3 linked regions of the Homo sapiens genome follow. The protein of the gene in region 2 purifies or fractionates together with the protein of the main gene of each other region. This does not show direct contact. Each region holds a gene or a part of one and is shown on either strand. Other genes may lie near its edges.

Region 1 (5,147 bases), 8.9 Mb from region 2:
CCAGTCTGCTCAAATTACCCATTCTAGTTTGGATCCAAAGTCCCTCAAGGACTTAGACTCTTCTCTAACCCCATAAAAAAGTGTAAAGACTTCTGAAAGTCCTAATGTTCTACAGTGTGCACAGAATATGCGTAGTATATACAGTCAGTCAATCCTGTCTACCAAATACTATAAGCAATTAAGCATGATGAGTAAGGAGGGCTTCCAAGTTTGAATCCTAGCTTTACCACTTACTACCCATGGCACCTTGGGCATGCTGTGTTCTTCAATTCCTCATCTGTAAAATGACAATAACAATAGCACCTACTCCTTAAGTGAGAACAAAATGAGACAACACATGTAAAGCACTAAGACCAGTGCCTGGCATATAACAGCCTAATATATATTATCCTAATGTTATTACTACTATCCTATTGGGCTATGCCCACCTGGCCAAGCCTGGATCCCCAGATTCTGGGCCTACAAATCCAATTAATTCATAAGGCAGCCTCAGAGAGTAATATCGATGTCTTCTGCAACCCTAAAATGCTCCAGACCTCTGACAGAGCATACTATATATACCCTATTCTGATGGCCAGTGGTCCTCTTGCCTGCAGGCCTTGCTTTCTCACCTGATTTCATCTACATCAAAAAGCTTCTTTTGGCCAAGCACAGTGACTGCACCTGTAATCCCAGCACTGTGGGAGGCTGAGGCAGAAGTATTGCTTGAGCCCAGGAGTTCGAAACCAGCCTGGGAAACATAGTGAGACCCAATCTCTACAAAAAATAAATTAAAAATTAGCCAGGCGGGGTGCTGCATGCCTGTAGTCCCAGCTACTTGGTAGGCTGAAGTAGGAAGATCACTTGAGCCCAGGAGGTTGAGGCTACAGTGAGCTGTGATGGAGCCACTGCACTCCAGTCTGGGTGACAGAGCAAGACCATAATTCAAAAACAAAACAAAACAAAACAAAACAAAAAAACTTCTCTCGTAGGAAGTCTTGAGAGTAGACATTAGGAGGTCAGGCCTCCACATATCAGCAGTTACTGGATTCCACACTTCCCTTACTTCTAACAACCAAGCTCAGTTCAAGTCAAGAAACAGAGGGTAGCTCTTCCTCTTCCCTTCCTGAAAAACTCAATCCTAAAGCCATTAGGTGCAGCAGAAGAGGGCAGATATCTACAACGGGTGGAGTAGGGTGAGCCAGAGAGGTCTGGGGGACACTGTCAGAGCCCAGGCAGGGTGAGGAAGACATCCTTGCAGAAGTGGGAAGGTGTGGTGCAGCATGTCAGAGCCGAGGGGGATGTGGAGAGCATCCATGTCGGCTGGCAGTCTGATGTGGGGTGACACACGCAGGGTAAAAGAGGCACTCATGAAGGGTAAAGGGCAGTGGCAGTAATGAGGATTAGCTACCTACAGAGGAACTGATCAAAGAAGTGCATATATTAAGCATAATGGGACCCAGGTTTCTCACTGTTAAGAGAAAGGAGTTAAAATATGGAAAGGGAGAAAATCTGTGGTGTTGGATTGGAATTGGCAGGAAGAATGTGAACTCATGGTTTCTGATTAGATGTGTATCAGATAGATAGATGGATACACACACACACACAAATATACACACATATGCATATATATTTTCTAGCTCTATTTAAGGAAGAGCCAGGGAGCAGTAACAATGGCAATGAGCACACCTAGCACTCCATTGCCTTCTTGTTTTTTTTTTGAAGACAGGGTCTTGCTCTGTTGCCCAGGCTGCAGTGCAGCGGCACAATCATAGCTCACTGCAGCCTCGAACTCCCACGCTCAAGCAATCTTCCCACTTCAGCCTCCCAAGTAGCTTGGACCACAGGCATGTGCCACCACATCCAGCTAATATATATATATATATATATATATATATATATATATATATATATATTTTTTTTTTTTTTTTTTTTTTTTTTTTTTTGTAGAGATAAGAGTCTCACTACGTTGCCCAGGCTGGTCTTAAATTCCTAGGCTCAAATGTTCTTCCCACCTTGGCATCCCAAAGTGCTGGGATTACAGGCATGGGCCACAGCACCCAGCCCCAGTTGCCTTCTAAATACCATTCCCCACTAAAAGAAACAGAGGTCCTTAGAGAAATGGCTGATTCCAGGGATGCAGCAAGAGAAATACAAGATGAGCGCATAACATCTTGTATCAGAAAGCAAGGAAACACCCAAATAATGATGGGAACATACCAAAAGGATACAGAAGCCACCCACTGGCCAAGAAACAATGATAGTAATGGATTATAATGCACTGAATAGAAAACCATGAGTCCATAAAGATATAAATCAATAAAATTAAACTTTGATGTGAGATATTTACATAGTTTCAAAGTATCACCCCACAAAATACTTATTAATTACAACTAGTAGTAATTTTATGATGGAGAAGCCTGGCAGACATCACCTTAATCAAGTGATCAAAGTGAACATTATCAATAATGGGATAAATCAAAATCACACGACGAGAAGAACAAAGCATCATTTCTGTTATATTCCTGAAGCTACACAACCTAAATCTAATCATGAGAAAATGTCACACAAACCCTAATTGAGAGACAATCTAAACAATAACCAGCCTGTAATCTTCAAAAGTATCAAGGTCATGAATGCCAAGGAACGTTTACTGAGGAAAGTCTAAAGGAGACTAGAGACTTGATAACCAAATGCAACCCACGATTCTGAACTGGATCACTTTGCTGCAAAGAACATTCCTAGGACAACTGGCAAAACTTTAATGGGGTCCAAGGTTTATATAGAGGTTTTATATCAATGTTAATTTCCTGATTTTGATGGTTGTATTTTGACTAGGTAGGAAAATGTCCTTGTTTATAGGAAATGCACACCAAGCATTCAGGGTGATGGGGCATTAGGTCGGCAACTTAACCCTCAAATGGTTCAGGGAAAAAATTCTTTCTACTGTACTTACAACTTTTATGTAAATTTGGGCTGTTTCAAACGTTTTTTTAAAATTGTTTTTTAAAATCAGCTGGGTGGGGTGGCTCACATCTGTAATCCCAGCACTCTGGGAGGCCAAGGCAGGCAGATCGCTTGAGGTCAGGAGTTCAAGACCAGCCTGGGCAACATGGCAAAACCCCATCTCTACTAAAAATACAAAAATTAGCCAGGCATGGTAGCACACCCCTGTAATCCAGTGACTCAGGGGGCTGAGGCAGGAGAATCGCTTGAACCTAGGAGGCAGGGTTTGCAGTGAACTGAGATCACATCACTACACTCCAGCCTGGGTGACAGAGACTCCATCTCAATAAATAAATAAATAAATAAATAAATAAATAAATAAATAAATAAAATTGTTTTTTAAAATCCATGTGCAATGTGGTTACAATTTTAAAATTAAAAATATCACACAGACAGTATTTGAAGAGACAGATCTCCCTGTAATGCCCACAGAAGGTAGGCTGCATGTTCTCTCTGGTAGAGAGGCTCAAAGCATCTCTCAGCCCAAACAGTATCTCTATCCAGCCGAGTTTCCATCAGAAGAGCCCCTACTCAATGCCCACTTCACTGGCACTCCTGCTACCATACAGCCTTCTCAGGAAACACACCTGCTCCCTGCAGCAGCATCCCACTTGCCCTTGCACCCTCCGGTGTCTTAGGGATTTCTCTTTTCTATTGATGTCTTTATGTTTTAGTCACAAATTTGCAGGCTATAAGTCTATAGCTTATAATATCAACTGGGACTTTGAGTATCTAAATGAGGGCCAGAACTCAAAAGAAAGTTTATGATTCTGCCTATTTCTGCAAACTATCTTTCATCAGAGACTAAGATTTATACACATTTATTCTCAGACATCCTTTTCCGTCTCCTAGCAAATTAAAGGTATTAAGTAGCCCATGGCAAGGAGGAAAATGAATGATTCTCTCCTCAATATGAAGGGCCCAGGTCCCCAGTGGGGACAGGGGAGGGGTAAATGGGACTGCCACGGGGCCAGCCCGATTTGGAGAAGCAGGCCTGCGCCAGAGCCCCTGGAGGATGGTCTCTGTGCAGAGTATTTACACAACAGACACCAATGGCTCCTCTGCAGCCATTACTGTCTATCAGGTAAATAACACATGTGCCAAAACACACATTTAATGAGGGAAATAATATGCCTTTATAAAAAGACTCAATCTGTATTTACCTGAGAGACCAAAGAAGCACCAAATCACCAGATTAGAGGAACCACAGAGGAGTCGTTCTGGTGTCTTGGGTAAATAGACATTTTATAGCCTCCATTACTGGAGGGGTGAGCAGAGGGGGTCAACCTTTAACATCCACACACACAGGCCAAGGGAGTCCTCAGGATGGGAAAACAAGAGGAGGCCACTGTGAAACAGGTGGTCTACTCCCACTTCCACCTCCCCAGCCACATGTACTTGGGATCTCTGGGATGGTGTATGTTTATACCACCCCTGGATTCAATTCATTCCATTAAAAGCCAGACTAGGAGGCAGGGATACATCCAAGTAACTCCAAGTTACCTGCAACAGGTTCTGAGTCCAGCTGACTGAAAGCACCTAGGAATACAACAATCATAGCTTCCTCAGTTCTCAGTCCTGGTGTAAGTCCCCAACCCAATCTGACCTGCAGTATCACAAGTGCTCAGGCACCTGAGTCACAGAAACAACAACAAAAAACACAGTAATACCTGTCTGGAACTCAGTCACTGGCTTTGTCTCAAGCAGCTAAAAATAGCCTGGGAAAAAATACAAATAAACTGCATCCCTTCAAAAGTCATAATCTTCAATCTAATGAATATATCCTTACTGCCAGAGCACTCTCTGTGTGAAAAACAAACTGTCAAAGGTGAAAGAAAACCTAAGAGGCAACACAGTCCAACCAGCCAGGGAAAATGAGATTAGAAAGAGAAAAGGACTGCCCAAGGTTCACACTGCAAGAAATAGTAAGAATAGAACCCAGGCTCTCAACTCCAAGGCCAGGGTCTCAGGCTACTGCTCCAACACAAGGAAAAGGCCTCACTAGTCATTTCCCAAGCTATGCAGTCTCACAGAAGAGGCCAAGAGCCTGAGGACTCTGTCTAGTTTGTTGAAGGCTAGAGGTTGAAGACAAAACAAAGCTTGACATGCCCTGGAAGCTCCACATGGTCCCAATGCGGAAAGGAAGCAGGAACTCTAAAACT
Region 2 (5,683 bases):
CCCGCCTCACCCTCCCAAAGTGCTGGGATTATAGGCGTAAGCCACCATGCCGGGCCTAATTTTTAAAATTTTTTGTAGAGATGAGGTCCCACTGTATTGCCCAAGGTGGTCTCAAACTCCTGGGCTCAAGCAATCCTCCTGCCTTGGCCTCCCAAAGCACTAGGATTATAGGCATGCACCACTGCACCCAACCTTTTTCTATTACTGATTGGTTATCAGACTCACTTTTGAAAATTTAGGATTTCTAAACTTACGGCCCCACTAGCTTCACCTCAGTTGTAATGTGTCTGCTCTCTGTAAACAGGTTATCTCAGAAGCTCTTCTCAATTGTCATCCGTCATTACCTTTTTTTGATAAAATTCAAGACCTGGAAAGGACCTGGAGGGTCATAGTTGTCCTTTCATGTTGCTATGAAGTGCTGGAAGTGAAAGGGACCTCCAAGACATTCTAATCTTCTCTTCCTCCATTTTATAGGGAGAAAACCAAGCCACTGGCCCCGTTACACAGCAAGTTAGTAGTAAGACTGAGATTCGAACCCTGGTCAAACAGACTTTCCATTTTGTTCCACTGACTCAATCTTCTCTTTTACACTTGAATCAGACTTTTAGTTTTATTGTAGTTTTTGAGTCCATAGCTGTCTTCCTGTACTGTCTTGACTCTTTGACTAAACTGATTTCACATCTTTAAAATTATGCTTTCCTTTTAGGCTCATTTTTAGCTCAGCTGTTGACAGCTATTTTTAAATGTAACATGACATAATATATTTCCTAAATAATTTAAAATAATCTAGCTTGAGCTGCTCTGAAGGTTAGTCAGTTGGTGGTGTGCATAGAGGTAGAGCCTTCCCCCACTCTCAAGGATGCTGTGAGGGGTATTCCTACCATGTGGTGAGTTGGGAGGTTTTCCTGAGGTCCTTTTCCATCCTGAGACTCTGGTTTTCCATTTTGTTTCTCACAGGCCAGGGCTTTGACCGACACTTGTTTGCTCTGCGGCATCTGGCAGCAGCCAAAGGGATCATCTTGCCTGAGCTCTACCTGGACCCTGCATACGGGCAGATAAACCACAATGTCCTGTCCACGAGCACACTGAGCAGCCCAGCAGTGAACCTTGGGGGCTTTGCCCCTGTGGTCTCTGATGGCTTTGGTGTTGGGTATGCTGTTCATGACAACTGGATAGGCTGCAATGTCTCTTCCTACCCAGGCCGCAATGCCCGGGAGTTTCTCCAATGTGTGGAGAAGGCCTTAGAAGACATGTTTGATGCCTTAGAAGGCAAATCCATCAAAAGTTAACTTCTGGGCAGATGAAAAGCTACCATCACTTCCTCATCATGAAAACTGGGAGGCCGGGCATGGTGGCTCATGCCTGTAATCCCAGCATTTTGAGAGGCTGAGGCGGGTGGATCACTTGAGGTCAGGAGTTTGAGACCAACCTGGCCAACATGGTGAAACCTTGTCTCTACTAAAAATACAAAAATTAGCTGGGTGTGGTGGCATGTGCCTATAATCCCAGCTACTTGGGAGGTTGAAGCAGAATTGCTTGAACCCAGGAGGTGGAGGTTGCAGTGAGCTGAGATCACACCACTGCACTCCGGCCTGGGCGACAGAGCGAGACTGTCTCAAAAAAACAAAAAAGAAAAAAAAACTGGGGCCTGTGTAGCCAGTGGGTGCTATTCTGTGAAACTAATCATAAGCTGCCTAGGCAGCCAGCTACAGGCTTGAGCTTTAAATTCATGGTTTTAAAGCTAAACGTAATTTCCACTTGGGACTAGATCACAACTGAAGATAACAAGAGATTTAAGTTTTAAGGGCATTTAATCAGGAGGAAAGGTTTGGAAAACTAACTCAGGTGTATTTATTGTTTAAGCAGAAATAAAGTTTAATTTTTGCTTGAAGATGGTTCTTAATTTCTTTTAACCTAATTCCTAATCCTCACAAAGATCTTTCCAACAGCAAGTTCAGTAAGTTCAGGTAACAGTACGTCACCATTGGCTTCTGGCTCATTGAGTGATGGTGGGATCGCGGTTTCATCTCTGTAAACTTGCCCTTGACTGGGGAGATACCATCTCCTTAAAAATACTCTTCATTTTCCTAAGGAGTGAACTGCTGCTGCACGAATTCTTATTTGTGGAGGGAGTAGCTGCCTCCTTACTTCACCTTCATGCACCAGTGCAGCGTGAACAGGGGCTTTATTGATGGGGCTTGGGAAGCTGTAATAAAGTCCAGCATGCAGATTGTGAAGGTTTCGTATAGCCACCAGGAGACAAGGGTCAAAGGAACGAGCCTCTGTGGGCTCTGCTGCTTAGAGTACTTTGTCCTTTCTCAGTTCTTAAGGGCAACTGGGAAGGAAGAGGGATCAGCACTTCACAAACTGGTGGGTGACCTCATAGATTCCCACAGACTCCTGGGCCTTTTCATCATAGTCAGTCCAGTCCTGGGAAACAAAATGGCATTGTTAGCCTCACAACGCAGAATGCAGCCATGTGGAGAGCAGAAAACTGGGACTTAAAAGGCCCAGCTCAGGCTCTGACTCAAATAATCATGAACATGTATGACCCTGAACAGAGCCAGATAGCTCAGGCCTGAATTCTAGCTCTTTCAGTTGTATGACTGTGGGCAAATCACTTAACTTCTCTGAGTCCCTTCTCCGAGTCCTGTCTTCTATTTAAAAAAAACAAAAACAAAAAAAGGACAATGGAGTTCATATTGAATGTTGAAAGAATCAAATGAGGTAACACATTTAAAAGCACTCAGCAGCCGGGCGTGGTGGCTCATGCCTGTAATCCCAGCACTTTGGGAGGCCAAGGCAGGTGGATCATTTCAGGTCAGGGGTCCGAGACCATCCTGGCCAACAAGGTGAAACCCGGTCTCTACTAAAAATACAAAAAATAGCCAGGAATGGTGGCAGGCGCCTGTAATCCCAGCTACTTGGGAGGCTGAGGTAGGAGGATCACTTGAGCCCAGGAGGCAGAGGTTGCAGTGAGCTGACATTGCACCACTGCACTCCAGCCTGGGCGACAGAGTGAGATTGTCTCAAAAAATACATAAAATAAAATAAAAGCACTCAGCATAGTGAGTGCCTGGCACATGTAAGAGCTCAGTAGATGCTAGCTGCTGTTATTAGGTGCTGAGCAAATGAAATGAAGTTTTTGTCCTTCCTTCAAGGCTTGAGCACAAGGCTTTTCTATCTGCAGGGTAGTAATATGTCCAGTAATACAGACTATTTCTTGTTCTTCATGGTAGTTAGGTGCAGTAAAGCCACCACAAACACTGAATTAGGGAATACTGAATGAATACTCCCCGGGGAAATACAGGGTTAGGTTCCTATGAGCCTCTGGTCACATTTTCATCAACCAATCAATAATCTAGCTTTATGTGTTTCTGTTTAAAGATAACTTATTTAATATATATTGTTGATTCATGAACTCACAGCCAGCAGCACTATAGCTCATGCCTGAATAAAGCTTATCTAACACGTATTCTCTCTGTAAGGGGCATCATAGCTTTCTCATACGTAGGAACATTAGAAAGCACTTTAGCACTATACCTGTGGCCATTTCAACAGCAAAATCACTAACAAAAAGCACAAAAATACAGAGTTGGCTTTCCATTGATGAGCCTTGTCCACCAAAAAAATAATTCCCACCAGGTGCCCTACAGTACCTCCCAAAGCCCCCAAGTCTCATACCTTCTCCTGCAGATTAATGTCACTGAAGGCTGTCCCTGACTCCACACCTTCAGCAGCAAACCCAGCCTGCAGGGCACAAGAAGGTACCAGTTAGTCTTGGCAAAAGAAGGCATTGGGCTATAAGTAAGGGCCGGCCAGGCTGCTGGCTCTTCTCACACTTCTGGGATGGAGGACAGAGATGCAGTATGAGTACCTGTCTTGGAATAACTGCTGAGCTTCCAGGACCCGGCAGCTGCCTCAGAACTAGAGTGGTGGTTTCTCTGAATTACAGCCTTGGACCAGAAGGCAGCAGGGGCAGCGTAATCCCTTCCACTAGCCCTGGTTTGCTGAAGGCTCCTGGGCATGTCATTTCCCAGGTTGGACCTTAGTTATTGATAAAACGGGGATGAAGTATTTGCTCTTCTGCCTACCTCACAGATTTGTTGTGAGGTGAAACATGCACAAATAAAGGGGGATGAGCACCAGCTCAAGTCAGATAGATCTGGGTTGAAACTATAGCTCCACTGCTTACTGTGTGACCCTGAGCAAGTTGCAAAATCTCTTCAGTTCCTTCCTCATCTGAAGAACAGGATGAATAAATTCATAGGGTTACCATAAGAATTAAATGTGGTAACATGTAAAAATGATGGCATGGGTGCCCAAGCATACAGCAGCCACTTAAGGGACAATTATTACTACCGCTAGAAAGGAGAATGTCTAGTCCATGGTATCTGTAGGTAGCACAGTTCTGGCTGTCACTTCATACATCCCCTCCCCAAAGACAAAGATTCCCCAGAAAGATACACACACACCTGCGGCTGGAAATCAACTGGTTCAAGGCCCCGGCACTCAAACTCCACTATTGTCTTGAAGTTCTCATTGTCTTCAGCCTAGAAAGGAAGTGTGTTGAGGAGGCAGGCCCAAATGAGCTCTCAGGATGACCCCATGGCCCCTCTCCTTCCTGCCAAATGGGCACTTACTGCCCCTGGAGGCCTAGTATGAGACCCAGGAAGAACTCATCCCCTTCTTAGAGGAAGCCTGCCTTGGGCACCTGCTCCCTATGAAGCTTTCTGTAGACAGCAGACATGGAGGCTGCAGAAGAGCGTGGATGCTGGGGTCAACCTGCCTGGATGTAAGGTAAGCTCTGCCTATCTTCCCCTCTGGGCCCAAGATTCCTAAACTGTCAAATAGAGCCGAGGAAACCTCTACAATTTTACTGTCAGATTTTGAAATGCATATAAAGTGCCCAGCACAGTGCTCAATAAATAGTAAATAAAATTATCAACACCAAAAATATGAACAAGAATGTTAAGCTCCAAAGTCTCTAGATCATCCAAACAGACCCAGTACACTTAACCATAGCCTTTTGCTGACCATCTGCCATGCAGTAAGGGCAGAGGGCTGTCTTATAGCCTTTGAAATGGTTATGTATGTGGAGGGGGCACCTCTTGGGGGGCAGGTGGCCAGGAAATTCATGCCTACCTGACCTATGGGCTTAGGGACCACAAGTGCCATGCCCTACATTCAGTCTCATCCTGTCATTCACTGTAAAGTAATTTCCTGCACACTGACCACATCTCTGGCACTGGTAAGGCACTTCTCTGTTAGGGCCCTAGTTCGATTCTTGTTTTTTGTATTTTCCACTAGATTATTATGTACGTGAAGGCGAGTCCTCATTTAATTTCTCTTTAACTTCAGGACAAAGCCAAGAATTTGGCACAACTCAAGATACTTTAAATAAATACCAAATAAGGAATAGGTGAATACATATAACTGGCTTTCTTTAAACAAACAGATCCAAAGCACACCCTCCCTCACCTTTGGGCTAACTTGTTAACACTGATGATATAAAGGATGGGATGCACCAAACGACTACCCCACCCATGGTTTCAGAGAAAGCTTGCTAGTCCCCTAAAATGAAGACAAGGCAAGTGCTCTCAGTGATGCAAACTGAACAGCTAGGTTGTGTCAGAGGTCCCCTGAGCTCTCACAGCCCAGCCCTCATAAGAAGGCACTGCAA
Region 3 (5,147 bases), on a different chromosome or scaffold from region 2:
ACTGTGTGAATTCAGCAGGAAAACACAGTAGGTGCCAACGTGAAATGGTGCCAGAGTGAGAAGGCACAAGTTGTGGAATGTCAAGTAGTATCGAATATTGACATCTACATAGGAGGTAGTAGAAGATAAGACTAGAAAAGTTGGTTGGTCCCAGGTCATGGAACATCTTGATGACATTCGAGGCCAAGGAGTTCAGCTTTATTCTTGTGCACTAAGGAACTGTTGAAGGTTCTCCATACAGCAGTGATATAATCAAAAGTGTGCTTTAGAAAGATTGCTCCAGCCAGGGGTGTTTAGAGTAGGTTGAAGATACAGAGCAAGTTTAGAGTGCCATTGCTATTGCCTTGTCCCAAGATACAAGAAGGCCCTTCTCTGTCAATAGGAATGGCAAAGGACGTAGCTTTGAGAGAGATGAAGTTAGACTTAACCGGTGTAACACAAGGCAAATGAAAAAAAAGAGATGACTAAGACAGTTGTGATACAAGCAACTGGGTTGAGAGAAACTGGCATGTGATCAGCTCTCCTAAGGGCAGAGCTCAAAGGAGAGCCCCTTTGAGGGATTAATGGGTAATGAATGCATTTGAAGCTGTGATTAATAAGATGATCTGTTCCCCAGACTCAACCCTTGGAGGTGCTGCTGCTTCAAATTATGCAAATTCCACTTGGGGCTCGGGAGCCTCCTCCAACAACGGCACCTCCCCCAACCCAATTCACATCTGGGACAAGGTGATTGTAGACGGGTCTGACATGGAAGAGTGGCCTTGTATTGCCAGCAAAGACACTGAATCTTCTTCCGAAAACACCACCGATAACAACAGTGCCTCGAACCCTGGCTCTGAGAAGAGCACTCTGCCAGGAAGCACCACTAGTAACAAAGGAAAAGGGAGCCAGTGCCAGTCTGCAAGTTCTGGGAACGAATGTAATCTTGGGGTCTGGAAATCTGACCCTAAGGCTAAATCTGTTCAATCTTCCAACTCTACTACAGAGAACAACAATGGACTAGGAAATTGGAGGAATGTGAGTGGTCAGGATAGAATTGGACCTGGCTCTGGCTTCAGCAACTTTAACCCAAATAGCAACCCATCTGCCTGGCCAGCACTGGTCCAAGAAGGAACTTCTAGGAAAGGGGCATTGGAAACAGATAATAGTAATTCCAGTGCACAGGTTAGCACAGTAGGTCAGACATCCAGGGAACAGCAGTCAAAGATGGAAAATGCGGGTGTTAATTTTGTTGTCTCTGGCAGAGAACAGGCTCAAATTCATAACACTGATGGACCAAAAAATGGAAACACTAACTCCTTGAACTTAAGTTCACCAAACCCCATGGAGAATAAGGGAATGCCCTTTGGAATGGGCTTGGGGAACACCTCCAGGAGCACTGATGCCCCTTCACAAAGCACTGGAGATCGAAAGACTGGGAGTGTTGGATCTTGGGGTGCAGCTAGGGGGCCTTCTGGAACTGACACAGTCTCTGGACAAAGCAATTCTGGAAACAATGGGAACAATGGAAAAGAGAGAGAGGACTCCTGGAAAGGAGCTTCTGTTCAGAAATCAACTGGGTCAAAAAATGACTCTTGGGACAACAATAACAGGTCTACGGGTGGGTCCTGGAACTTTGGCCCCCAGGACTCTAATGACAACAAATGGGGTGAAGGGAACAAAATGACATCTGGGGTCTCTCAGGGAGAATGGAAACAGCCGACTGGGTCTGATGAGTTGAAAATTGGAGAATGGAGTGGTCCAAACCAACCAAATTCTAGCACTGGAGCATGGGACAATCAAAAGGGCCACCCCCTCCCTGAAAACCAAGGCAATGCCCAGGCTCCCTGTTGGGGAAGATCTTCCAGCTCCACAGGAAGTGAAGTTGGAGGTCAAAGCACTGGAAGCAACCACAAAGCAGGAAGTAGTGACAGTCATAACTCTGGCCGTCGGTCGTACAGGCCCACACATCCTGATTGTCAGGCTGTCTTGCAGACTCTTTTGAGCCGAACTGATTTGGACCCCAGGGTGCTCTCAAACACTGGCTGGGGCCAAACTCAAATTAAGCAGGACACAGTGTGGGACATTGAAGAGGTGCCAAGGCCTGAGGGGAAATCTGACAAAGGAACTGAGGGGTGGGAGAGCGCTGCCACACAGACCAAGAACTCAGGGGGCTGGGGAGATGCACCCAGCCAAAGCAATCAAATGAAGTCTGGATGGGGGGAGCTCTCAGCCTCTACAGAGTGGAAAGACCCCAAGAACACAGGAGGCTGGAATGACTACAAGAACAACAACTCTTCCAACTGGGGAGGAGGACGACCTGATGAAAAGACACCTTCCTCTTGGAATGAGAATCCCAGCAAGGATCAGGGGTGGGGAGGTGGACGCCAGCCCAATCAAGGATGGTCTTCTGGAAAGAATGGTTGGGGGGAGGAAGTCGATCAGACAAAAAACAGCAATTGGGAAAGTTCTGCAAGTAAACCTGTGTCTGGGTGGGGTGAAGGAGGGCAGAATGAAATCGGGACTTGGGGTAATGGTGGCAATGCAAGCCTAGCTTCAAAAGGTGGGTGGGAGGATTGCAAAAGATCCCCAGCATGGAATGAGACGGGCCGACAGCCCAATTCCTGGAATAAACAACACCAACAGCAGCAGCCCCCACAGCAGCCGCCGCCACCACAACCAGAGGCTTCTGGTTCGTGGGGAGGCCCACCCCCACCACCTCCAGGCAACGTTCGACCTTCCAATTCCAGCTGGAGCAGCGGGCCACAGCCTGCAACACCTAAGGATGAGGAACCCAGTGGTTGGGAAGAGCCATCCCCACAGTCAATTAGTCGGAAAATGGACATTGATGATGGCACTTCAGCATGGGGAGACCCTAACAGTTATAACTACAAGAATGTGAATCTGTGGGATAAGAATTCCCAAGGGGGCCCAGCACCTCGAGAACCAAACCTGCCCACCCCAATGACCAGTAAATCGGCATCAGGTAAGCAGTGGCTTTCTCTTGCAGCTTTTGATGAAGAAAAGGAATCCTAGACCAAGGCATTTTTATTAGGTGAATTTATTCAACTTAGTTTTGTTCTGAGATGCTTTCCTACAGTTTCTACTCTGTTGCTAACAGAACCTCTTTTTATGAAATGCTAGTGATGGCAGATGCTGGTAGTACATTTTAATGTTCTTTCTTGGCAAAAGGAAAAGATGACAACCCTGTGTTAGTCCCCAAAATTATTTTTCTGTAATTGTATTGGTCTGCAGAATCCAAAAGACATATCTTGCCAAACAAACTATGTTCTAGATTTTAAAATAAAGAATTAAAGTAGTAGCAGAAATAGACCTGATTTCCATTCTGGTTCTACCCATGGACATGTCTCTGCTTCTGTTTCCCCAGCAAAGGGAAATAATTCTGTGTTTTTCCAAAGGCCATGATGATGCTGAAGCAAAGCTGGATCTGGAAGGTTTCAGTCTCTTTCTGGATGATTTTTAATGATTACCTCTGGAATGGGAGTACTTTGTATAAGAGATTGTTATCTCAGTCCTAGTGAGATGGCTCACACCTGTAATCCCAGCACTATGGGAGACTAGGGCAGGAGGATCCCTTGAGCCCAGGAGTTTGAGACCAGCCTGGGCAACCTAGAGAGACTTCAGTCTCTACAAAAATATTTTTTAAAAATCAGACGGGTGTGGTGCATGTGCATATAGTCCCACCTACTCTAGAGGCTGAGGTAAGAGGATCGCCTAAGCCCTGGAGATGGGAGGCTGTAGGGAGCTATGATCTCACCACTGCACTCCAGTTTGGGAGACAGAGCGAGACCCTGTTGCCAAAAAAAAAAGAGCGATTGTTAGGATAGTCAGTTGCCCAGAATTAAACTTTCTTCCGTCACTATTTGAATAGGAAACATCATACCTGGTAAAAGTAGCAATGGTAATGCCATTCTTAGTTTGTCATTGTCAACTTGAATGTCCCTATAGAGCATATAGTTCAACAAATTAAGGGGGATGCACCTTTCAGTCTTTTTTTAGTTAAAATTAATATTAAGAACCAGTTTTCTTTTTTTGAGACAGAGTCTCACTCTGTTGCCCAGGCTGGAGTGCAGTGGCACGATCTCGGCTCGCTATAACCTCCGTGCCAAGTTCAAGTGATTCTCTTGCCTCAGCCTCCTGAGTAGTTGGGATTACAGGCACCCACTGCCATGCCCAGCTAATGTTTGTATTTTTAGTAGAGACAGGATTTCACCATGTTGGCCAGGGTGGTCTCAGACTCCTGACCTCAGGTGATCCACCCGCCTCAGTCTACCAAAGTGCTGGGATTACAGGCATGAGCCACTGTGCCCAGCCAAGAATCAGTTTTCTCCGAGTACACCTCTAGTGTTCAGCTAATCCATTTGTGGCCTCTTAGAAAAATGATTACTTTTAACTCATTCTTTTTTCAAGTATTGAAAAGAATGAGGAAGGAAATGAAGATTTCTCACTGGCTCCCCATGCAGAATAAAACCTGCTAAAATTTTAAAAAGCTACATCCACATAGCAAAAACCTTCAAACTGTGTGGAAAAGCAAAAGATAGTCAATAAAATAATCTTTGGCCAGGCGCGGTGGCTCACGCCTGTAATCCCAGCACTTTGGGAGGCCGAGGCGGACAGATCATGAGGTCAGGAGATCGAGACCATCTTGGCTAACACGGTGAAACCCCGCCTCTACTAAAAAATCGAAAAAATTAGCCAGGCGTGGTGGCGGGCACCTGTAGTCCCAGCTACTCGGGAGGCTGAGGCAGGAGAATGGGGTGAACCCAGGAGATGGAGCTTGCAAGTGAGCTGAGATCACGCCACTGCACTCCAGCCTGGGCGACAGAGCAAGACTCCGTCTCAAAAAATAATAATAATAATAATAATAATAATAATCTTAACCCCTAGGGTCTCTTCCCAAAGGTAATCTCTTAGAAGTTTGTGTCCCATTCAAAAATTTTACAGAGAAGGGATTGTACTTCGTATACTGTTCTTCACCTTGCTTTTCTCATTATACTTATAGCTTCCAATTTTAGCACATAGTCTGCTGCTTAATTGCTTCATATACAGTATTTCTTTTTTTTTTTTTTTTTTTTTTTTTTTGAGAGGGAGTCTCACTGTCTCCCAGGCTGGAGTGCAGTGGCGCAATCTTGGCTCACTGCAACCTC

Evidence for each region. Proteins that work in one complex are often made in the same cells at the same time.
Region 1: the proteins of CZIB (region 2) and ERI3 purify together in Homo sapiens (affinity purification with mass spectrometry; one large-scale study listed by BioGRID and IntAct). This does not show direct contact.
Region 3: the proteins of CZIB (region 2) and TNRC6B purify together in Homo sapiens (affinity purification with mass spectrometry; one large-scale study listed by BioGRID and IntAct). This does not show direct contact.

The regions. Positions count from the first base shown.
Region 1 is NC_000001.11:44,340,964-44,346,110, forward strand, and holds part of ERI3 (ERI1 exoribonuclease 3), read right to left. Parts: intron 1-5,147.
Region 2 is NC_000001.11:53,212,307-53,217,989, forward strand, and holds the end of CZIB (CXXC motif containing zinc binding protein), read right to left. Parts: intron 4,554-5,683; coding exon 4,476-4,553; intron 3,751-4,475; coding exon 3,685-3,750; intron 2,431-3,684; coding exon 2,353-2,430; 3' UTR 1,793-2,352; downstream 1-1,792. Other genes in the region: CPT2 (carnitine O-palmitoyltransferase 2, mitochondrial isoform 1 precursor), read left to right, coding at 958-1,289.
Region 3 is NC_000022.11:40,264,072-40,269,218, forward strand, and holds part of TNRC6B (trinucleotide repeat-containing gene 6B protein), read left to right. Parts: intron 1-616; coding exon 617-2,965; intron 2,966-5,147.